Regions from separate parts of the Homo sapiens genome. Here region 1 is linked to region 2. Evidence: fine-mapped expression QTL. A gene starts in region 2. The other region holds a variant in brackets. All regions are shown on one strand. Distances are from middle to middle.

Region 1 (12,941 bases), 28 kb after region 2:
ATTAAGAGTAATGATCCACATGCTAAAGGTTAATTTCTAGTTGGTCTTCTGAATTCTGGCTTTTTCTTAACTCTTTTCTTCTGCTTTAGTCATCCTATAGAGGACCAGAAAAAATTAGACACAGTGAAATCTCTCTTCATGGTCAGGACAGTTACTGAGCAACAGGAAACACAACTATTCCTTATAGGCCTGGTGCCCTGTTTTTTTCCAGCCCTCAGGTTGGGAGCCTTTCGCATATTTTGCATATAACCTCTGACTTTGCAATGGAACGGAATTTTATTATATTTAATACCATATAATTTTTTTAGTACTGTATTTTTTGGTGGCTTTTAAAGCCACTATTCAAAATCTTTATATTACCCAATACTGCCAATATTCTAAAATTCTTGTGCAAATAAATTGTGTCATTATGTACAGTTAATGGACTTAGTAGGCAAATCAATTTTTATTTTTTTGGTTAAAGGGCTCTCCATTGTGTAAGTGCCTTTAAAACATGCTTATTAGTTAAGCATCTCAACAATGTGGAATGTGGGTTGGTTTTATCACTCTCCAATTAAAAGTTATTGCTCCATAACTTCCAAGAAAGGAAGTTAGGCACTTGGAGAAATTGGTTCAGTATTACATTGTGCAAATAGAATAAATAAATCCAGACTACTGATTCTCAACCTGTTTTCTGCCCTAAATCATCAGAGAGATAAATAGATTCTCTGTTGTAATAACTGAGTCTCAGATTCTAGCTCAGGAAGCCATTATGCCTTCTCAGTACTGGCCTTCTAAAACTTGATATGTTCAATTTTCAAAGAAAATCAATTTAGAAAGAAAAAATATGCTTTGAGATGATAAAAAAGGGAATAGTCATGTAATACAAAATCCACTAAAGCTACATTTCTCTATGCCTTATAGAAATGGACAATTATTTAAATATTAAAACATACCACTACCCCAATTATATATTTTATAATATAAAAATACTTCTTAAACTAAGTAGTAGTATTACTACTGAAATCATCTGTGTATATTTGATATGGGACATGGATAATGGGTCACATCTTGACAAGCATTTCAGGCCTATTGAAAGCTGGTTGTAACAGGATGCAGTTTGCATGAAGGGCTCATTATGATTATATCTTGGACACAGCACAGTAACACTTTTCTTTTCTTTTTTTTTTTTTTTTTGAGACAGAGTTTCGCTCTTGTCGCCCAGGCTGGAGTACCGTGGTATGATCCCGGCTCACTGCAACCTCTGCCTCCCGGGTTCAAGCAATTCTCCTGCCTCAGCCTTCCAAGTAGCTGGGATTACAGCCACCACGCCCAGCTAATTTTTGTATTTTTAGTAGAGGCTGGTTTTTGCCATGTTGGCCAGGCTGGTCTAGAACTCCTGACCGCAGGTGATCCACCTGCCTCGGCCTCCCACAGTGCTGGGATTACAGACGTCAGTCACCCGGCCCGGCCGACACTTTTCTTATGGCTTAGAAGTTCACAGAGTTCATAGGCAATTCATGTAAACTCAAAATGTTTGAATAGCCACACGAACGACTTCAGCTTGGCAGTCCCTTTGTCTCTAGGTTTCTGCTCGTTTCTATGTATCTAGAAATTCTGCCTCAGTCAACGTCTTGGACTCCTATCTTAGTGTAGGTAGAATTACTCATCATTACTTACTTTGAATCTAGATGGTTTCTTCACTGCTACTTTTAAAACCAGAGAGTCACCAAGTCAAGCACAACCACCTTGTTCATTCTCTTTTTTTTTTTTTTTTTTTGAGACAGAGTCTCGCTCTGTCACCCAGGCTGGAGTGCAGTGGCGCGATCTCGGCTCACTGCAAGCTCCGCCTCCCGGGTTCACGCCATTCTCCTGCCTCAGCCTCACGAGTAGCTGGGACTACAGGCGCCCGCCATCACGCCCGGCTAATTTTTTTTTTTGGAGGCGGAGTCTCGCTCTGTGGCCCAGGCGGGAGTGCAGCCGCGCGATCTCGGCTCACTGCAAGCTCCGCCTCACGGGTTCACGCCATGCTCCCGCCTCAGCCTCCCGAGTAGCTGGGACTACAGGCACCCGCCGCCACGCCCGGCTAATTTTTTTGTATATTTTTTAGTAGAGATGGGGTTTCACCGTGTTAGCCAGGATGGTCTCAATCTCCTGACCTCGTGATCTGCCCGTCTCGGCTTCCCAAAGTGCTGGGATTACAGGCGTGAGCCACCGCACCCGGCCTGTTCATTCTTTTAAGGCCTTCATTTTATTCCTGTTGGTTTCACTCACAACTGATAAAAAAGGTAAATGTCGTGTGAGTAGATAAAAATTTTTGAAAATTTGTTTTCAAAGTTGTTAAAGGAAAATACTCTTCTGAGTGTTTCCGTTCTGGATTGTTATTAGTAAGAAAAATATTTTCACAATGATACTATCAAGCATAAAATTCAGCAAATTATAATACTACCCTTATTACACAGTCTCAGGAAAAAAGGTAATAAGTATTATTTTGCATTTAGTGATAGAAATATTAAGGCTCACAATAACAATTGATTTTAAAATAATGATTAATTTTCCAGCTAAAGTTGTCATTTGACAAGCATTTACTGAAAGTACTTGAGAAAACGACAGCAGTAATTATAGCAGTAATAAAGCATAGCAGGCTAGACTTGCCTCTGTAATGCTCATGACTCTTGTGTAATGTAGATAATTAGCAAACTATCGAAACCACTGGAGGAACATCCTGTAACATGGTTAGGGAGACCTTTGTCCTCAGATTTGTTAGCTAATGACATTGTATAAGGATTTGGCAAGTAATTGAATTCTGTTGACTCTTAAATGTTTGGTAATGTACAGTTAAAACTATAAAGTCTGACAGAGGACATGGAGTTGGTACCTTTTCTTTTAAATTTTTCACAGCAATCTTCCAGTATGTTCTTATCTTCCTTGGAAAACCTAGTGTGTCTGTCTCCCAGCAGGTGAAATGAAATGACAATAGACTTTCATTTTGAAATTCAGCAATTTCGTAAGCTTATTGAAATTTTGTTTATCATTTGCTAAACTTTACTGGTATAAATATTACATGGCAGAAATAAAATTATAAGTTGTACATTAGTTTATTCATTTAAACTTTTGTAACACAAAGATCAAGAAACATAACATATTCTGTATTTTTGCCAACAAATATCTAAAATCATTATATTTTAAGTTACAATATCTGCAATCATAATAAATATAGGTCTTTTAAAATATAAAAATTTGAGGCATAAAAGTAATATGATATGTTCCAAGTCACAATGGCAGTAAATATAAATGCTAAACTGAAATATGAAAATCTAGTTGAGGATTTGCTTAGAGTAAGTTTGTAAAATTTGTTTTGAAGAAAGAAAAACAGATTGAAAGTATTTCTTTTTAATATGGTTTCAATTTAATTTAAAAACAATGCAACAAAGCCATTCTTATGTACACACATAGCCATTAAAGATGTTCCTAGCACAAAGATTCTCAAATGTTCCTAGTTCATTCCACCCTTAATATCTGGTAATTTTTTCATGGTGACTCTAGGAAAATAGGAATACCTCATTCGTTTATTAAGTAGTTAGGCCCAAATTTAGTAGTAGCAGTTTGTGTAGTGTCTGACTGATATTTCTGTGTTCCCCTAAAAATTTAAAAACACTATAACACTCCTGTGGGTTCACGGTATCATGATTGGGAACCACGGTCCTAGCAGCATTAAGAGTGTGTGTGTATTGTAGGGGAGAAAAAATAGTTTTACTCTACTTATTTTAGGTTCAGTGCTCGAGACCCCTGTATCAAACGAAAGACTAACAAGCAAAAAGCATACACATTTATTTAATATCAGTTTTCCGTGACAAGGGAACCTTCAGAAGGAAATGAAAACTCAATAAACAGTTTTAAACTTGAGTGTTTTTCCATAGTAGGTTTGATGAAGAGTGGAAAGTCATGGAGAAATATGATAGGACAAAGGGGATATGAGCTACATGTAATGAGCTGGGAGAAACTTGTCAAGGCTTATTTGTTCAGATTACTCTCTGTGACTCTGTGTCCTTGGAGATAAGGATATTCCTTTCCTCCAGGAATAGGGAAGCACCTCTCACATAAGGATCTTATGCACTGCTTCAAGGGAAGGTCAGAACATGCTTCCTAGGTTTTATGATCTGCTTCAGGGGAGAAGGGAGGCGGAACTTCACAGAGACCTTCCTGCTTATGCTATTTTCTCAAATTCCTTCAGCTTAAAATATTCAATATGCCAAGGTGCCATATTTTGGGGTAGTGTGTCCTGATGTGTGTGTCTCTCTCTCCTGAACTCTCTTATCTATCCATCCAGCCATCCTTCCACATCCACACACACACACACATATAAATCAGTCTCCTGCATTTTTATTTGCTAAGTAAAATTACATTCTGTTGTAATTTTCTCCTTGCACTTACCATGACTTGATATTTTCTTGTTTACTTAGTTGTTTATGTGTTTAATGTTTGTCTTCCTTCACTGGGCTATGGGGTCCAAGAGAGTAGGAAAGTTTTCTGCCTTGTTCCCCACTGTATTCCTAGAACCTAAAACACTGCCTAGTGTATACTACATATTCAGTACACACTGTTTGGGTGAATACACATCTTCCAAAGACAAATGTTCATTCTCAAGGACAGTACATTGTAGATAGAAATATTCTCTAACTCCCATATACTTTGTAAGAAACTTCACCTTTCTTGGAGTTCTATTATCACATAATTATAGACAGTGCAGTTTATCTTTTACTGCTCCCAATTGTGCCCTTCAGAACATTTAGAAAAGGAGTCATGTAATCTAGTTATACAAAGAAAAGCTTTGAAATAAATCGCTGTCCAACAAAAACCACACACACAAACACACATACACAAAACCCACTCTATTACATTTAGTAATCTTGGTGAAGGGAAGGGAAGTCATATATTTTACCAATTATAGGTATTTTAACCTTTTGTTTTCAAAACTATAATAAAAATATTCAATAGTGTATTGAATTTTAATTTGCAGGAGACTATCAACATATTAGGTTGCTTTGGGGTTAACTTTATAAATTTTTTTTCGCAAAAATCTCACAATAAAGCTTCTGCTAACTGTCCATGCATATTTTGAACTTTTTTGGAAATGTATTATATGTAATTTAATGAATTAAATTTTAAAAATGTGTTCTTAAGTTACTGGACTTTTTAGTAGTTTCAGGAAAGGTAAATCAATATAGTGTTTCTGGTTTATCCTAGTGAATG[A/AT]TTTTTTTTTCTGAATATGTGTTTCCTTGGAATTTAAGTTCCACAGATCATTGATATGTATAGTCTTTTTCACAAGAAGTTTACACATTTTTTTGGTGATGGTGGCTAAGTGGTCTTTAGGCAAAATGATCTGATGAAATTAAAATTGAGCAATTAGGAGGGGAATCTATTCAATATGGACTGATTATGAAAAATTCAGACCCCTTTTTCTTAATTTTCAGGGATCAGAGGGTTTTAAATTATATAAGTTTCTAAACATGTATTCTGTTTATTGAGATGAAGCCTAAATTGGTGGTGGCAGTGGGGGCTGTGTGTGAATAGAAACAGAAAAAGCCTACCATTGACGCCTTTGATAGATTTTAACTGTCCAATTAATTTGCGTACATGAAATGTGTAACATACCAATATTTTGCTCCCGGCACACAGATCTCCAGTGGACATCGACAATCAAAGCTTCTATGATTATTTCACAATATTCAGCAATCCACCCAATGCTAACTGGGATGTTTGATTTTGCAGCCTCTTTCAGAGCAGTTGCTAAAAGTGGCTCCACATCATAAGAGGGCTTCCCTCCCTCAATCCATGAGAGCAACTAGGTTTTGCATCAGTGAAAGGAAGAAAAAGCAGGAGTTTGGCAAGAGGCTGCAAAGAGACGGCACTGGGCTCCACTAGAGTTCCTTCCCACCGCGTTTCTCATCCTGTCTTCTGCCTAGTGGATATGTCTGCGTGGGCGTGCACACACATTGGCTGATGAAACCCCCTTCCTGTTGCACAGGGTCAGAACTAAGCGAGGTGGGTGTAGCTTTGGAGGGTTCTGAAATCTAAGAACCAGCTTCCTTTCCCACCGCTTTCCGCTGAGTCAGTTCACTGCAGAGTGCTCTGCAGGATCTGGAGGCCTTTGTGTTCAGATTATTTTACTAGCTACAAAAGCCACACCCTTGTGCTACACAAACAGAACACTTTGTCCTTCCAGGAGGTCCGTAGTTTGACCACAGTTCTGGGATTTCAAAGCTGCCTCACAGAGGCTTGCCTATTGTAATGTAAAGTGTTGAGCTGAGTGACTGTCCCTGTGTTATAATGCAGCTTCACAACTGCTGGTTTAATGGCTTACCGTGCTAGTGGGGCTTTGAACAACAGACCCTGTCATTTAAAACAGGCTCAGAAATCCATTTATTACCAAAAAAAATTTCAATGACAGTGAGAAAAAAATGGAATAATGCTTTTTGATTTAGAAAAAATCTATTCATTTATTTTTTATGTTTCATTTATTTATTTTAGACAGGGGGCCTCACTATGTTGCCCAGGCTGGCTCAAACTCCGGTCTCCAAACCATCCCCTTGCCTCAGCCTCCCAAGTAGCTGGAACCACAGGGGCGCATACACCTACCTACTCTTTCTTTTTTTTTAAAAACAAAACAAACCCCACACATCCATGTATAGCACACACACACGCACACACACACACACACATATATACGGTCAGTAAATGACCATTGGTGCACAGGCAGCTGTAGGAAAGAAGTGGTGTAGCGGAAGGACGGCTGAATTTGGACACTGAGCTTCAGTTGGCAGCGTAAGTCCCCTGCCTTCCAGCCTGGGAGCAATCATCTTCATGAGATTTTAATTGTATTCCTGTTCTCCTCAAACCCTGTTACAGACTCAAATGCATCTTACATAATTATTACATTTTGAATTCAAATAACTATAAATAACTGCCTTTTACTGAATGGTGATTACATGCACTATACTAAATGCTATGCTCATTTTCTCATTTTATTCTCAGCATCACTTTATGAAGTCACTTCTGTAATCCTCTTTTCACTAATGAGGGAAGAGAGGCTTAGAGATGTTAAATCTCTAGACATGGCCACACTGTTAATAATGGGGAGAACAGAGCTTCTAGCAAGATCTGGTAGTCTCCAGAGTTCAAGATTGCATCTGCTAAGAAACGTGGCCCATTAATTACAGCAGCCTTAGCATAAAGTAGGGCTTGGAGGCCAGTCTGGTCAAACTAGGGGGTCAGAAGACTTGCTTTGAAGTGCTGACTTAGGAAGCACGTTGTTTTTATTTAGATGGTGTAGGGGAAGTGCTGATAAATATTACCGGACAAGTAAGCACCTCTCTCCACTGGCCCAACAAGCTCTCTCCCGCATACGCTTGGCACAATCACCATTGCCTCTTTTATTGCTTTGCAACAGTTTTCATAAAATTATTTGGGGATCATTTTTGCTCCAGCTGTGCAGACCTCTTTTAAGTCTTCCTTTTTGCATTCAGACCCCCTCCCTGGAATGGACATTCATTATCATCCATCAAACAATATCCTAACTCTTCTTCAAAGTGACTCTCAGAAAACATTCATGATGACATTTCTTTTTAGAATCTCACACCTAGACTAATCTACACCTACCAATTTTAGTTATTACAAAAAACTGTTGTAAAACAACCTGCTCCTACCCTTTCGTTTGTTTGTTTTCTTCTTTTTCTTTTTGATATGGGGTCTCGCTTTGTCACCCCGTACCAGGCTGGAGTGCCATGGTACAATCATAGCTCACTGAAAACTCAAACTCTGTGGCTCAAGTGATCCTCCTGCCTCAGCCTTCCAAGTAACTAGATCTATAAGCACGCACCACCACACCTGGCTACCCAGCTAATATATGTGTGTGTATAGATGGATGTATCTTTTTTGTAAATATATTTTGTCTGTTTGTAGAGACAGCTGTATAGACAGCTAATATATGTGTGTGTATAGATGGATGTATCTTTTTTGTAAATATATTTTGTCTGTTTGTAGAGATAGCTGTATAGACAGCTAATATATGTGTGTGTATAGATGGATGTATCTTTTTTGTAAATATATTTTGTCTGTTTGTAGAGCCTGTTTGTAAAACAGGAAGGGGGGTTCATCAGCCAATGTGTGTGCACGTCCACACAGACACATCCACTAGGCATAAGACAGGATGTTTGTATTGCCCAGGGTGGTCTCAAAGTCCTGGCCTCAAGCAATCCTCCTGCCTTGGCCTCCCAAAATGCTGGGATTACAGGAATGAACCATTTGCCCAGCCGCTTTTTTCTTTTTCTCCCTTCCCTCCCTCCCTTCCTCCCTCCCTCCGTCCCTCTTTTCCTTTTTTCTTCCTTCCTTCTTCTTTTTTTTGAGACAGCGTCTGTCTCTGTCGCCTAGGCTGAAGTGTGCAGTTGCACAATCTCGGTTCACTGCAACCTCCACCTCCCAGGCACAACCAATCTTCCCACCTCAGCCTCCCAAGTAGCTGGAACTACAGGTGCAAGTCACCACATCCAGCTAATTTTTATATTTTTATAGAAATGGGGTTTGGCTGTTTTGCCCAAGCTGGTCTCAAACTCTTGGGCTCAAGCGATCCACCTGTCTTGGTCTCCCAAAGTTCTGGGATTACAGGCATGAGCCACTGCACCTGGCTTGAACCAATTTTTTTCTTAACTAAAGCCAATTGGGTCTGTCTGAGGCATTTAAAAAGTTTTTGACTTATATTTTTATTTTAGATATGAAACCTTAATATCAGTCAAAATCAGTATAAATAACATTCATTTGATAAGAAAAACTAAATACAAATAGTTCCAAGAAGTGTTAATATTTTTATCTTAATTGTTTTTGTAAGATTGAGCTGATTTGATCACTCCTTCTAGAAACACTACTCTCTCGGCTTCTGTGATATCACACTCAACTGATTTCCTTTCTACCTCTCTTGCTGTTCCTGCTTGTTCTCCTTTGCTAATTTTTACTTCTTTACTCAATTGCCAAATGCTACAGCATTTTGGATTTGCTTCAGTCTCTGTTCTCTATCCATTTTCTATTCATTGTTGACCTCATCCAACCCCATGAATTTAAAAACGATCTCTATGCTGATGAGTCTAAAATTTCTGTCTTCCATCCTGACATCTCCGCTGGTTTCAGATGTCTAATCCACATCTCCCTTTGTATGTTTAATTAAAATGGTTGTCACATGTATGGAAAAGGACTTTTAACTATCCTAGCCTTGTCCAACTAATTAAACCACTATTTACCTTGTTGTTCAAGCCATTTCATAGTCTTTTGTTTTTGTACCTCTCCATAGCTCTTCTCTTCTCTCTCTACAGACTAGCTTTTCTGCTGTGTATTACTTTCCTAGGGCTGGTGGCCAGGGCTGGATCCCAATTCCAGCCCCTGGCCTGGAAAAGTCACTGTGGATCAGGCTATGTCAGCTATAAATCCTGATCCTCCACAGGCAGAATAGGATAATAATCATGTTCTATGATCAGGTCTCAGGCATGGCTATGGGTGGGGCAATTTTCAGAGAAGGCAGTTGGTGATGCATGGGTTGCGCAGTCTTCCCAGTAATGTTTACTACACAGCCTTGCCAAATTTTCAGGAGTTTTTATATTCCTGACGCCCTTGACTTGCACATTCATGTAAAGAATCAGAAAGGAAAGATCATGCTTTTATCAGTCATGACTGTAGTCCAAAGACTTCTTTTTCTGCTCTATCATTTGTCTTTTTCTTACTGATTAAGAAATAACTTGGCCTATGTGATTTACCATCCCTCCTTGATATGAGACCTTTCTTCAAGATCAGTCCAGCAGGTTTTATTTTACTTTATTTTTTCCCTGAATGTGCCAGCCGAGTTTAGACAACGTGCACTTGCCAAGTAGGCCTTTTAGGGAGTAATCAAATATACTAGAAGCTATGATGACTAAGTACCCTCAAATTCAACCCGAGTCTGTTAAAATTGTCTCAACTGTAACCTTTATAATATGATCCTGAGTCACTGTGGGTGGTGGGGGTGGGGGTGGGGAGAGCACAATTATAGGAATTCCCCAAAACAGAAGAAATCTAGTGAGAGAAAAAAAAAAGAGCAAATGCTCCTAATTTTGACAATTCAATGAAAGTTTGAAGGATGATAAAGATTCACCTTTCCTTTGTATCTTCATCCATACTAAGCGCATCACAGAAGGAGAGCTGGTTTGTACAATCTATCTTTCTAAAAGAAAGTGGCATTCATGCTAAAAAATGAGGGGGAGAAGCCTCTAGCTGCATGAACTAGAATAATCTTTACTTATTTTTACTACTTTAGATTCTCAAGAGTAATTTTCAAACGGAAATCTACTGAGGGTTTTTTTTTTTTTTGGCTGGGATAGGCCTTCCTGTCTAGCAATGAAGCCATTTCCACTTAATAATTACAGGGTTGTTATGGAAATTCCCTTTTAAAAGTATTACTTTAAAAAATTGTGCAATGTTACCGCCTCCCCCCTCCCGCCGCAAGACCCTAAAAAAAACTTACATCACACCAAGAATAAATGATGTGATATTTTTTTCTGTAGGATTGCTGCCGTTAGAGAGAAATGAAAGCAATATTTTAGCAGCCTGTTGCTTCGCAGGATAAACATTGCCCTTATCATTCTTTGTGGATTGATTTTTGCCTGCTTGATGACAGAATTCTTCACATGACAGCTAAATTGTTTTGATTATTGAAAATATCACAAGACAAAATATGGTACAATCATAATTTCTTCCCTTTTCTCTCTTTAATCCAAATTATACATCAAAACCGAGAACATGGCCAGGCGTGGTGGCTCACGCCTGTAATCCTAACACTTTGGGAGGCTGAGGTGGGTGGATTGCCTGAGCTCAGGAGTTCAAGACCAGCCTGGGCAACACGGTAGTCCTCAACACCCCTCAACACAGTGAAACCCCATCTCTGCTAAACACGGTGAAACCCCATCTCTACTAAAATTAGTACAAAAAATTAGCCTGGGCGTGGCGGCATGCGCCTGTAGTCCCAGCTACTCAGGAGGCTAAGCAGGAGAATGGCTTGAACCTGGGAGGCGGAGGTCCCAGTGAACTGAGATCGCGCCATTGCACTCCAGCCTGGGTGACAGAGCTAGACTCTATCTCAAAAAAAGAAAAAAACAACCTGAGAAAAAACCAAGTCACTGGCAATGAGATTCACAAACTTATGAAAAGTAGGGAATAAAAAAACAGGATGAATCATAAAATATTTTTTGTATTAACTAGATAAAATCTATCCTTCTGAGTGATATTCCCACCTGTTTTCAAGCAAATGGATAAAAATCTCTGGTAAAATAATAGACTATGGAGAAGATTCAGGTAGGAGCTCCTGCTCTGCCTTCTTCCTTGTTTTTTCCAGTGACTATTGAAAAAAATGGGGAAGAAAAGAGACACTGATAAAGCTTCCAAATTTTCCCAGTAGGAGAGAATTATAAACTTTTCCTACAACTTTTTCGTTTTAGACAAAGAGTTTAGTGGTCAGATGAGTTTGGGGATCAATGTTGCTTACATACTCTGATTTCAGGCCTTAACTTCTTGTTAAGTTCCAGACCTATGTACCCAGCCACGTTTACAATGTGTCCTCCTGGAAGTTCTGCAGGCAATTCAAACTCCAAAACTTAACTCTCAGTGTTTGTTTCCATATCAGCTTCATTTCCTACCAGCTATCCCATTGCCCAAGTCAGAAAATTGGTATTCATGCCATGTGGCTCTCTCTCTGTCACCGCCCTCTCACCCTTGATCCAAGCCACCCAGTTCTTTTTACTTTGTGTCTTCCCCATCTCTCTGACATGCCTCCTTTTTCTCTTTCTCTCTCTCTCTCTTTTTTTTTTTTTTTTGAGATAGAGTCTTGCTCTGTCATCCAGGCTAGAGTACAGTGGTGTGATCTCGGCTCACTGCGACCTCCACCTATGGGGTACAAGGGATTCTCCTGCCTCAGCTTCTCAAGTAGCTGGAATTACAGGCGCTTACCACCATGCCTGGCTAATTTTTGTATTTTTAGTAGGGACAGGGTTTCGCCATGTTGGCCAGGTTGTTCTCAAACTCCTGACCTCAGGTGATACACCTGCCTTGGCCTCCCAAAGTGCTGGGATTACAGGTGTGAGCCACCGCGCCTGGTCTTTTTTTCTATTTTCAATCACTGGCGAGGCTCTCACTTGGTCTGCCTGTGATTACTCTCCTCCTTTTCCTCAAATTCATCCTTCACACTGTTGCCATAAATTTTCTATACAAATCCGCCCTAGACAGTCCCATGTTCGAAATACTTAGATGATTCCTCTTTAAGATAAAGTTCCTACCTTCACTTATTCCCCCTCAGATCTCCTATCTCCCTTACATGAAGCCTGTGCTTCAGAAGTTCCCTGAAGTTGATGCTCTCTCTTTCCAGCACTGCCTGCTCATACTGCTTTACTGGAACCCCTTCCCACTCTCGTATGATTGGCCAATTTCTTCTCATTCAAGGCTCAGTTGATGTGCAACCTTCCCTGACACTTCTGTATCCACCTTTCTGAGTAATGTGTTCCTCCTTTATGTTTCCTCAACATCTTGTACGTGCTCTGACACAATAGTAAAAGGCAATGTGATACTCAATAGCTGAGAAGAGCATTGCCACTGGAATCAGACAGATCTGGGCTTGAATTATGAGTCTGCCATTTACTAATATCAACCCAGAAATATAATCTCAGTAAACCTCATTTTTATCTATAAATAATACAGATAATAACAGCTATATTACAAGTGTAAGTAAACATAAGTCTATATAAGTTTTAAGTAAAATAAAATGTATACAACATAAAAATTAGTGCCTAGTATGATGTAGTTGTATCTCCCCCGTAACTGTGGGTATATCATGTTCTTTTTGGGATCCTCAGGGCCAAGAAGAGAGTTGGCTCAGAAATGCTGCTAAGATGTCA
Region 2 (12,941 bases):
CTGTCAGCATTTGAAAAAAAGCTGCTTTCCTTTTACATCTCACGTCTCGTGCTTTGACTTCTGAGGCCCAGTGGTAAAAAGGCATCATGCCACACTACACAAGACTCACTTTCTGTGTCCCTATTTCTTATATTTGGATCTGCCTCTTGTAGTGTGGCATAATGCCTTTTTACCACTGGGCCTCCTGGCAGTTGGACCTGCACTCAGGTATGGATATGCATGTGAAGGCTTTTCCAGAGGAAGGGACAAACTGTCCTGTGACTTGAAACTAGGTGGAGCTAGGCCTTGAAGCTGTCCATAAAAGAAGTTCAGGAGGAGGGTTTAGACTTGTGGACTCCGGAAATTCTTATCTAGGACCCATTCCAAGTGAATTTTGGGTTGTACTTCCCTTCTGACATCCTCTTTCTAAAGTTTTGTCAAAAATTGTACCCTGGCTCTATGCTGCCATGGATCAAAATGAATTAACCGAAATGAGAACTCCCTAGAATACAGTGGGTAAGAGAAGAGACTCAGAGCCAGACACAGGAAACAAACTCCTGCTCCACTGCTTTTTAGCTGAAAAATCAGTTAGGAGGTAAATTAGTATAGGTGAGAGGTCACAAAAACCAGATCCAAGTAGTGGAAATGGGAATGGAAAGACATGAATTAAAGGGAGCTTGATAGCTAATCATAAGTGGGATATAGGATAATTTTTTAAATGGCCCTGAAATTTCCACTTGGAACTGCTGAATAAATTGCCGTCAACCAAAACAGGAACTAAAAGAGGAAGGCCATGTGTTTAGCAAGGATGCTAATAAAATGATACAAGGGAATCAATGTTTATATCCCTCTCAATAATTCTCTAAGAAATTCTCTATTATTCTCATAATAAATATGCATGGAAACAACTAAAGTGAGGTATCCTAAACATATACATCTATATCTATCTATACACATACACACACATACACAGGCTGTGGCAAAGGTGAGGAAGGACACGATTTCAGTATGTGCATGCTTAACTTATGTATATCATAAAAAATCAGGCTATGTAAGAGAAGAAGAATGCTACATGCATCTGATTTTTAATTTTTATTTTCATAGATTAAGGGGGTATAAGTGCAGTTGTGTTACATGGATATATTGTGTAGTGGTGAAGTCTGGGCATTTAGTGTCGCCATCACCCAAATAATGTACACTGTACCCAATAGGTAGTATTTCATTCCTCACCCTTCTCCCACCCTTTCACCTTTTGAAGTCACCAATGTCTATGATTCCACTCTACATGTCTATGTGCATCCATTGTTTAGCTTCTACTTAGAAGTCAGAACACAGGCATCAGATTTGATCTGGGTCCTGATATTTAATTCAAAAAGAGAATCAAAGTAAATTACTCAGTTGTAGTTATTTAAAAGGAGAAAACTTACCCATTTCTTATGATTAGTATTTCTTCAAAGTGTCTAATCATTAATTATCTGAAATACTTACTTAAAATACAGATCACTGGCTCCTCTCCTGATGATTCTGATTTGGGGGGGTCTGAAATAGGAGGAACCAGGAATCTATACATTTACAAGCATTAACAGGTGATTCTCATCATTAGCCAAGTTTGGAAAACCACAATTAAAGGTGAGGTTCGCAGAGGCCCTAGTGCCTCAGTACTTTTTCATGGTACCTCAGGCCAAAATAAATAGCCAACATTTCTATTTATGAAATTGATAGATCCAAACTTGATAGTTGTAGTTGTTAATATGGTCCAACAGATGTCACTGTGTTTCCCTCAAAAAGTTAAACTATCCCACAGAACCCCTAGGAATTCTGAGGCACCCCAGAGCACTATTTACAAGCTACAGGCCCTAAAGGGAATTTTTTTCTGGCATAGAATGTAAGTAAAAGCTCTGAATGGGCCTTCTATAAGATCAGGCAACAAAGTGAACCTTGTGTTCCACAAATTCCATTGCTTTTAATATCATTTGTTGCTGTTTTCATATGGTTTTTATATATAGAACAGGCACACCAAACATTTTTCTACAGAGGCAGAGAGCACATTTATTTTGTATGTGTGTGTTGTGGGGGGCATAGATGATCTTGATTGCATATTCTTTTCTTATCCATTCTCTTGCAGCCCTTTAAACTTGTAAAAACCATTCTTATCTCCTGAATTTGACCTACAGGCTGCAGTTTGCCAACCACTACTGTAGTTTTAAAACCTAGGGTATAACATTAAAGTGCAATTCAGTGAGGACGATTCTGCAAGATTGGAAGCCCTCAGTGTTTTTGTTTTCCTTTTTTCCCTTTTTGCTCCAGGGAAGACTGTGCAAGGAACACTGGAAGGACTTAGAGATTTCAAAACTACTGTAAACAGAGGGTGGCCACAGAATTTTCTTGCTCTAAATTCTTGACTTAAGGAGAATCTGCAAGTTATCCCAGTTTAATAAAGAATCCCTATTGAATTTCCAATAAAAGGAAATAGGTTATTGCACTAAGCCCTTTATCAATTATTAGCTGATTATGTGAATGGCTAATGAGATTTCACAATTATAACTAATCAGGCAATCCTTAGTTTATAATAGATTCATGTTTATAGAATATGCCATTTGATATTTCTAGCTCTTATTCCCAAAATTAGTGTGGCTGTCTTGAGATTATGCATTGTGCTCAGAACTTAGGTTTTTACGTCGTTTTTTGTTTTTGTTTTTGTTGTTTTTGAGACGGAGTTTCGCTCTTGTTGCCCAGGCTGGAGTGCAATGCCGCTATCTCGGCTCGGCAACCTCCGCCTCCCGGGCTCGAGCGATTCTCCTGCTTCAGTCTCCTGAGTAGCTGTGATTACAGGCGCCCGCCACCACGCCTGGCTAATTTTTTGTGTTTTTCGTAGAGATGGGGTTTCCCCACGTTGGCCAGGTTGGTCTCGACTTTTTAAAGAATCCGGTATGACAAGTATGCATGTTCCTGTGCTAGTCATAAAAGAAATAAATATCACTGGCAATAGCGGTCTTGAGAAAAACTAGGATATTTCTTGAGGAAACTCCAATCCATATTTAAAAAGAAAAAAAGCACACTTTTAAAAAAGTGTACCATATAGGTTCTTCCAAGTTACAGTCTTACAGCCTTCACCAAAAAGATGTTTGTCGATTAAAGCTTTCCTACAACTTCAAGTCATTACTTCTTTTGCAGGTTGTCATAAGCACCCTGAAATTACCGCTGAAAACATTTTATAAATTTAGTCATCCATAGAGACTCCAATATTCCACAAGGGCAGGGACAGTGTATTTTGCTCACCATTTTATCCCCAAGCACACAGAATTGTGTCTACTGCCTATTAGGTGTTCAATAAATATTTGTGAACTTATTGATCAAAGACAAAATTTAGTCAGAATCATCCAATGAAAAGCATTTTGCATTTGATGACTAGTAGACTTAGATGAACAGTTCCAGGACCACCACTAATTTTCCTTGGGTCATTAGAAACATCCCTTTGGGGCTGCGGAGAGAAAATCCAATCTGGCCGCTGCCCCACAGCCCCTTTCTGTTCTGCGCGTTTGCCTCGCCGTTCTGATGGAGGAGGAGGTGGAGGTGGAGGAGCAGCAGCGATTTTCTTAGCCATTTTCTTACCAACAGAGGCCAAAGGAGGCAGCAGTGGACTACACTGTGGGTTGTCTTTGCGAGGAAGTGGCATTGGGCAGAGATGCAGTTCAGCAAACTTATCATTGCAGCAATTTCGGAGCTGACTTTTCGACAGTGCAAGATCTAGAAATGTGTGCAAGACATGCGAAAACCACCACCATTAACACTGAAGATGTGAAGCTCTTAGCCAGAAGGAGTAATTCACCGCTAAAATACATTCAGACAAAAGTGAAGAGCTTGCGCAGATTAACCTAGAACGAAAGGCACAGAAGACAAAGAAGAGGATGGAAACAAAAATGCAAGGGAGCCAGCAGAGGCTGGAGTACAGGAAAGTTAAGAATTAAACTCTCCCGCTGCTTGGAAAATGCAGCTTTCTGCAGGTAGAGCCACCTAGTATGTATATGGCCACAAAGGGAATTTTGAAGGGATAAATAGAGATTAAAAAAAAAAAAAAGGCTAGATGGCTTTTTGTGTTGTATTTTCCAAGTCGTTAACTGCAAACGCTAGTTTTAAAGAGAACTGGACACTCAATCAAAATACTCCTGTCTCACTCCAGCACATACAAATGGTGTAGTTGAATGGTATATTGGAAATTATATCTATTGCAATTAAAATTGTGTGAGCAATTTGAAAGAAAAGAAAAAAAGAAACATCCCTTTCATCTTTCAGAGTGTATTTCCTTATGTGTCAAACTGGAATATTTCTATCTGTGGCCAGTTCCCCGGGATGCTGCTAGAAACACGTGAGACAGCGCGTTCATTTGCTCTACAAAAAGCGAATGAAGGCGCAGTTACCAGGCCAGTCAACCCAGGCTGTTTAAGGTCAACTACTGGGGGACTTCCACGTCACCTCGATATATACGTAACGCGTGTGTGCCGTAACCCGTGAACTATGGAATCCCTAACCGCGAATCACGTGGCTGCTGCCCCGCGGACGCCCTAGACGACGTGAGGGAAGGCGGTGCCGGGCGGGGCCTGTGCCAGGCTGGCGGGCCGCCGCAGACAGAGCTACCCGGAGCAACCGTTCAGGGGTGAGGCCGGAAGTCCCATCCGACCTCGCGGGCAGCCAGCGCTAGGCCGATTCGAACTCGACCTTGTTTTGGCGTTGCTAGGAGACGCGGCTCCTGCGCGCCCCCTACAGGCCGGCGCCCGGGCGGCGCGCGGGCAGGGGGCGGGGACTGTCGCGTGGAGCTGCCGGGCGAGCACCGTTAGGGCAGCCTGGCGCGCGGCGCCCGCCAGGCGCCCAGTCCTCTGCCATCGCCCACGCCTCCCTGGTGCCAGGGAACAGGTATCAGCGCGCCTCCCCAGCGGCTGGGAGAGACGCTGAATGAAGAAGAGGGAAGGACGGTTAGTCAGGTGAGCCGCGGCGGGGTGGGCGGCCGGGGCGGCCACGCCCTGCCGAGGGAGAAGAGCCGGTCGTGTGCGGAGGGACAGGGTGAAGGGATCCCACTTCGGGGAGGATGGGCTTATCCCGGCGGGCGCGCCAGGTGGGATCTCTAGCGCCTCAGGGGCCCGCGCGGCAACAGCCGGCACCCTCGGGCCCGCGGACAAAGGGTTAACGCGTTGGCAGTGACTGCGGGCCCCGGATGTGAGAGCCTTGGCTTGACGCCCTGGCTGCGCTGCAGGTGCGCCGGGCCGAACGGAGCCGGCAGCCTGGCGGCGACCTGACCGCCCGAGGCTCCCCTTCACCTGCAGCGGCTGCTCGGCTCCCTCTGGGAACGCCGCCTTTTCTAACTTAAGGGCAACAGGTGGTGCCGGTGGACCGAGAGAGAGCTCAGCTCCGCCGCGCTGGGAGCGGCAGTTACCCTCACCAATTAGGGAGCGGGGGCGGGAGTTGCATGGCTTCCCTGATGCGGGTGACCAATGGGATTTGGGATCATGAGTGGACCGGGAGGAGTGGGCGTGGTCGGAGTCTGAGTCCAAGGTTTCTCGTGCGGCAACTGCCAGAGCTGCTTGGAGAGCTAAGCTGGAAGGGTGCTTATCCCTGCGTAGAAACGCCTGCCAATGCTTTCTCATTTGGACCCAGACTCCAGATCGGGAGGTGAGAACGTTGTTATTTTGCAAGGGGTAGGAGGTAATAGTGATCTTGGGTATGCTGTTAAGCATGTGGAATTAGATTCCGAAGATAGGACTATCTGCTATGAGTTTTCTGCCAGATAGGCACTTTGTGGTTACGGCCACTTAGACCAGATACTGGTGACTGGGTTCTTTCCAGAATGAGGTCTTTGAGGTTTGGGGACCCAGGAGAAAAACGTACATATTACTGCAATTTAAGTAAACCAGATAATTTCAATCACTGTTATTCCATCGTTTGTCTTGGACTGTGTGTGTTTTCATGTACGTTTCATATCTCGTCTGGTTTGTTTAGCGCAGCAAGTTATAGTAAGTTCTTCGTGTTGTTTATTTTAGCAAAGTAGAGCAAACCTGTTTTAATGTATTATTTCGGGAGAATAACTTATTCCTTCTTCCGTCTCCCAGCAGTCTTATAGCTGGATCAGCTACCAAGAGAAGTTGTAAACCAAGAAGAGAAAAGCATTTCAATTTGGGACATTTATTTGCACCTGGAAATGGGGAATGGGCTGTCAGACCAGACTTCTATCCTGTCCAACCTGCCTTCATTTCAGTCTTTCCACATTGTTATTCTGGGTTTGGACTGTGCTGGAAAGACAACTGTCTTATACAGGCTGCAGTTCAATGAATTTGTAAATACCGTACCTACCAAAGGATTTAACACTGAGAAAATTAAGGTAACCTTGGGAAATTCTAAAACAGTCACTTTTCACTTCTGGGATGTAGGTGGTCAGGAGAAATTAAGGCCACTGTGGAAGTCATATACCAGATGCACAGATGGCATTGTATTTGTTGTGGACTCTGTTGATGTCGAAAGGATGGAAGAAGCCAAAACTGAACTTCACAAAATAACTAGGATATCAGAAAATCAGGGAGTCCCTGTACTTATAGTTGCTAACAAACAAGATTTGAGGAACTCATTGTCACTTTCAGAAATTGAGAAATTGTTAGCAATGGGTGAACTGAGCTCATCAACTCCTTGGCATTTGCAGCCTACCTGTGCAATCATAGGAGATGGCCTAAAGGAAGGACTTGAGAAACTACATGATATGATCATTAAAAGAAGAAAAATGTTGCGGCAACAGAAAAAGAAAAGATGAATATCAATACCTATTATATCTGTGTGGAGTAGGTTTTCTCTGGTCTGATTTTGACAAATAGAAGAGTGTCTACAGCGTGGTTTGCCTGTCTGCCCTCCTGGATGCTATTAAAGCTTTGTTTTGTTGAACAATCAGATGCCCAACTCTGTTGCCTTGTGGAAGATGAGTAAATGCAGTGCTTCTTAAAGTGGTCTCTTCTCCCTACCCCACAAATCTTTTGGTACTACCATTTGGGGAAGCCAAGCAAGGATAGTAAATTGACCAGAACACAGTTGTGGGAATTTGGTCTGAAGTTAGTGAAATAAAACTTTAAAGAGTGTCTGCCTAGTGTTTTGTGCTTACATCTTTCGGGGGGAAGCCTTTGCAAGAAAATTGCATACAAGGCTTTGTAACGATCAAGTGCTAATCGATGGAAATGTTAAGGTAGATTAACATATATGCAGTTATATTGATCACATTGGTCCAACCAGTCCTTTTTTGAAGTAAGGGACAAGGAGTAAGTATTTTCTTTTTTAAGTTTCTGCCAAATGATTTTTGACGCTTTCTGGAATCAAGTAATTTAATAGTATAGCTTAATTCTAGACAATGTTTAAGTTGGTCTACCTTTATTAAAAATAAGATATTTGGGGTATATTCAAGTGCATGGATTAGTTTTCCTGACAAAGCATGTTTTGGTGTGTAGTCTTACTTTTTAGAAATAGCTATGCATCGTTCTACACAGGTTTAAAACAACTTTTTTGGGGATTTAGGGCTATTATAGGAATAGTTTGTTGTCAGAAGCACTTTCACTTGAAGAACCTAAAATGATTGACTCATTCATAGTAAATATGGGCATGTAAACTAATAAATATGCACTGGATACATATATGGATTTATGAAGAAGGCGATTTAGTCAAGAGGATGTAATTAAAATATGTGGTCTCTAAAATATTCCAGTTACAAGATATTTGTTTTATTAATATTTGCTGGCTAAAAACAAATGTGGTTTTTATATATTTTTGTAGTGTGTTGAGAAGAGCAAAAGCTTTATAAATATACCTGATGCGCTGTAGAATGAAAATGTAAAAGATAACCTGTATGTGTTCCGAGCTTTAATTTTTTGTTTACAAATTGAACAGTGTTACATGGGCTGTCCAGTCCTGATTATAGAGAGGAAGAAATGGTAACAGTATGGCAGATAAGAATTACAATTATAGAAAATGAGGGGAAAATAACAAACCTGTTTTATGAAAATTCACTGGTGCTGTTTACATTGGAATAAAAAGCTCTATAAGGAGGAAAGGCCTTTATCTAATTCTTATCTACAGACACTTACTTCCAGTGACCATATTTTACTAAATCAGCTTATTTTTTATGTCTAAAGCAACAGCTGTTCTGAAAAATCACCAAAAGAAATGCACTTTGCTAGCAGGATTTGTTTTGGCTTTGGGTTTTGTTTTTTTGTTTTTTTTTTTTTTCAGTGGCATAACAGTTTTTGGAACCTTGATTCTTGTGTCACACAAAATGAATGAAGTAGCTTGATGTGGAGCCTTCATATGTTAAATATTCCTGCACTAGTGATGGTCACTTAGAATGTTTATAGAAATGTGGATAATAACTACCAATAAACTACTTGAGGCACTAGGAGAACAGTATTTGACTTTGAATTTTAATGTATTTCCACTTTTGCTGAAGCTTTTAATCAGATGTGTAAAAACAATTGACCAGCTAGGCTATTTAGTCCCATAGTAGTTCAGATCTGCTTAGATGTGACAGGCATTGAAGGCTGTTTTTTTTTTTTTCTCCCTTCACTGATACTGAAATCATGGTATCTGCTGCAAACATGAGTAGATCCATGATGGATTAATAAAGCTTGCTGAAAAAAAAAATCTGTGTATCAATTAGATTTACCAGTTTGCCTGTACTTTCTGTCTACCTACTATGTAAAATAGTGCTGTTTTTAAGTATTTCAAAAGCTTGTGTGTTGACCCTTTGTAGCCTAAGTACGTAAACAAATTAATGTTATCTAAGTTTTTCATATTTCATGGACAACAAAAGAGAAAATGGTATGAACACTGTACAAACTTTGATTTATAAAAGACAATTTCAGCTATAAAACCCATCCTAAGATTTTCTAGCTTGCTAAGTTCAAGTTCCCTACCGCCTATTCTAGTTATTAACACTGTAGTATAATGAGTCTTTAAATTCTGAAGAGTTTAGACTATGCTTTCATATCTAGTTTCTTCTTATGGCGCACCTTTTCTAGTGCATAGTTCTAAAATATTTTCTTGTATTTGAAGTTACTTGGTTTAATACAAAATATTAAGGACTGCTCAACTGAATCCAAGTTAATATCAAAGAACAAAGTGTAAGAAAAATAAAACCTTTTGATAGTTAAAGATAATTTTTAAAATGTGCAGAGTTCTTAAAATGGTTTATAAATGGTATTCTTAAACCATCAGAAGTTTACTAAGACTTAATCATGGAAAAATGAACTAAATCTTTATAGGGAGACAAAAAAATGAAGTTATTAATGTAAATATATATATAATATATAAGAATAATTACTGGTCTGTAAATGAGTGATGGTTTATCAACAGAGGGAAAGGCATAGACTTTGTTTGTACAAGGCATTTTTTTTTTTTTTTTGAGACAGAGTCTTGCTCTCTTGCCCAGGCTGTAGTGCGGTGGCACAATCTCAGCTTACTACAACCTCTGCCTCCTGTATTCAAGTGATTCTCCTGTCTTAGCTTCCCAAGCAGCTGAGATTACAGGCACACCACCATGCCCAGCTAATTTTTATTTTTAGTAGAGATGGGGTTTCGCCATGTTGGCCAGGCTGTTCTTGAACTCCTGACCTCAGGTGATCCACCCGCCTCAGCCTCCCAAAGTGCTGGGATTACAGAAAGTAGCCACCATGCCCAGCCTGTACAAGACATTTGATGCAAGGATTGTTCCATTAATAATTCATGGTGACCTTGAAGGAAATCTTTGGTTTTTCAAGATTCTATTTAATACAACAATTTCCTCTGTAATGTAAACAATGATTTCATCAGCGATAATAAAGATGCAAAAAAAGTTTTATCAAACTTTATATGATGTAAAAACTCAGCATTCAGCTGATGCAATTGAGAATCTTGAGTACACCATCATTTGAAGCTGGAATTTTACCTTTAAGGTTTAAATTTGGCGGAACATTCTGGAAATGTAAAATCATAATGTTAATATTAAAATCTATGAAGATCAGAAGTAATAGTCTCAACAAACCATAGCCAGAGTATGTATTCAATTCTGTGCATGCACATTAAAAATATGGGAATACCTGTACAGGAAGCTAGTTTAGGAGGATGTTAAATGTACTGGCTAAAAACATGAGCTTTGGAGTCAGATCAGTGTTCAAATCCTGGCTCTCCCGTTATTACACATGAACCTTTAGCAAATTCCTTGAAACTTATGATGAGAATGCCCTCCTGGTTAAATGAAGACTGTTTCATAGAATTTTGAGAGTGTTGAAATAACATGTACAAACTTTCACATATTGCCAAGCATTTGATAAAAACTGACCTACTATTGTTAACCAGTAGGAATCAATATGTTTATTATTTCATCTGGGGCAATTTACTTGCAGCCTTAGTTTCTTAATTTGTAAAGTGTGGGTTATATATATCTACCACTGGGGTATAACTGATTAAAAGGATTAAATCAAGCAATGATATTTAGCAGAGTAACTGACACTTTAGTAAGCATTCAATTGATAGTTATTAATAGCCAGAATACCTTATGATCAACGTATTTAAAGAAAATACTTGTTTTGGCAGGGGAATATAACATAGTGAGCTCATACATGTCACAAAATGGCAACTTGGTGGAACTTAGTGAAAGTCTAAATATGCTGAACTCCCTTGAAATATGGATCATTTCAAGGGATCATATGGTACTTAGGTTTCTAAAGTACCAATTTATTGTAACACAATATTATCTTACCTTTCCCTGTAAGAGATAAAATTTAATTTAAAATCTCGGTTATTTTCTGGTGTAGGCATATATCAAAATACAATACCTCACTTTTCAGACATTAAAATTTGAAACTATATATTATGGTTCTTCAAAATGCCTCAAGATTGTTATCTATAATTCACAAATTTGATCGAATGATAAGATCAAATTTGCAGTATCTGTGGGCACATCTGGTTGATGATGGTGGTTGTGTTTGTGGGTGATTATGTGTGCTGTGTTATTTTCCAGTTACTTTCAGTCTTTGGTCTTGTTTTATGTCTCCTGTTTATGTTGCACTGAAGTGGAGATTACCTGTATTAGTGGTTGAAGAGAGATGTTGAAGTTGATTCATTTCAGTGAAGGTCTACCTTTAGATAAAATCTTAACTTTTTGTTATGACAGATTTCAATCTTATACAGAAGTAGAATAATATAACAAACACCCAAGTATCTGTCATCTAGTTTCATTAATTATCAACTCAGGGCCAATCTGGTTTCCTCTATACTTCCATTCACTTCCTTCCATGCCACCTTCCTTTTTCCTCCACTTCTAGATTATTTTGAAGTGAGTTCTGGAAATTACATTTCATTTATAAATAGTGGTATATGTGTCTAAAAGATAATCACTTAAAAAAATTTCACTCACATGTAAAAAAAATATGCTTCTTCAAAATAACCAAATATCCATCCAGTGTTTAGATTTCTATTATTATTATTATTTGAGACAGAGTCTTGCTCTTTTCACCCAAGCTGGAGTGCAATGGCATGATCTCAGTTAACTGCAACCTCAGTCTCCTGGGTTCATGCCATTCTCTTGCCTCAGTCTCCCCAGTATCTAGGATTACAGACACTTGCCACCATGCAGGGCTAATTTTTGTGTTTTTAGTAGATACGAGGTTTCACCATGTTGGCCAGGCTGGTCTCGAACTCCTAACCTCGTGAACCTCCCAACTCGGCCTCTCAAAGTGCTGGGATTACAGGCGTGAGAATACAGAAAATTAGCTGGGCGTGGTGGTGCATGCCTGGAGTCCCAGCTACTCGGGAGGCTGAGGCAGGAGAATTGCTTGAACCCAGAAGGCGGAGGTTGCAGTGAGCCAAAATTGCGCCATTGCCCTCTAGCCTGGGTGACAAGAGCGAAACTCCATTTCAAAAAATATATATATATTTGATATATTGATATATTTCTATCTCTTGCAGCTTATTATTCCCATTTATGCATAAATTGTCTCATCTTTAGAGAGAACTGAGTCTTTTTCACAGAACCCTAGTAGTTTTTGATGGCTTTTTTGATTTCTCATTTAACACAAAGTCCCTTAACCTGTACATTTCCTGTCCCAGATCTGTTTTTCTAGGATGCCAGGTTCCTTGTATTAGGAAATGGTATTTAGAGTCCACAGTCTATTACTGGATTTGTCATTGTTTCTAGGCCTTTTCAGTGGATAGTACTAGAACTCTATTTTTTTAAGATTAGATACATTATTAATTCACAGTGATAGTTCCAATTCAAAGATTTACATTCAGAATGATAAGGCATTTATTTAGTTTCAGTGATATTATTATCTCTTTTCACTCATGCCAAAAATATTAGTTATGAGCAACACACAGTTGTTTATTTGCTTTATTCCACTTTAATCTCAATGCAATACTACTGTCAATAATTTGATGACTGGTAGTGGTTTAAGAATGTTGTAGTTACCTTTGTCCTTTAGGTATATCTCACTGGAGGTAAATTCTTGTATTTTAAGGTCACTTGGAATTGTTATTTTATGTGGGATTATGTTTTAGATATATTTGTTTCACAAAATCTCTTACTTGCTTTGTAGACATGTTGAGTCTGGTTTATTTAATATATACAGTTCTTCAAGTATATTTAAAAATACTGAATTTGGGACAAAAAATTTTACACACAATACTTTAGGAACCTCTCTTTTAAAATTGATGTACATGAATATTTTCCACAATCATGAGGAATTTTTTCTAGGCAATATTTTTCTTCTCAGTTCAAGCAGTAGAATTGTTTTGTGAAAATTTAAGTAATTTACATGGAAGACATCTGATATATAACAGCCCTCTGATTGAAAAAGAACTCTTCCTGTTGCAGCTCTTTGTAATGTCAACGAGAATCTGAATATTTGTTTTATGGGGTTTTTTCTTTGTTCCTTTTTAGTGCAGAAACTGAATAACTAAACAGCAGG

Evidence for each region. PIP is the estimated chance that this variant, and not a neighbour inherited with it, causes the effect. A credible set is the group of variants that fine-mapping cannot tell apart.
Region 1: its variant is the best candidate, but not a certain one, in a credible set for the expression of ARL4A in whole blood (INTERVAL, PIP 0.54).

The regions. Positions count from the first base shown.
Region 1 is chr7:12,709,751-12,722,691 of GRCh38, forward strand. No RefSeq gene overlaps it. Among named protein-coding and RNA genes, the nearest start is that of ARL4A, 29 kb to the left of the region's middle. RefSeq lists an enhancer at 5,844-6,511. The variant A/AT (reference allele first, on the strand shown) is at 5,233.
Region 2 is chr7:12,682,086-12,695,026 of GRCh38, forward strand. ARL4A (ARF like GTPase 4A) reads left to right here and starts at 5,548. Exons shown (of 2, transcript NM_005738.5): 1 at 5,548-5,643; 2 at 6,081-8,873. The coding sequence starts at 6,170. The coding sequence ends at 6,772. It also overlaps the pseudogene LOC100505995. RefSeq lists silencers at 4,583-4,862, 5,063-5,112 and an enhancer at 5,057-5,593.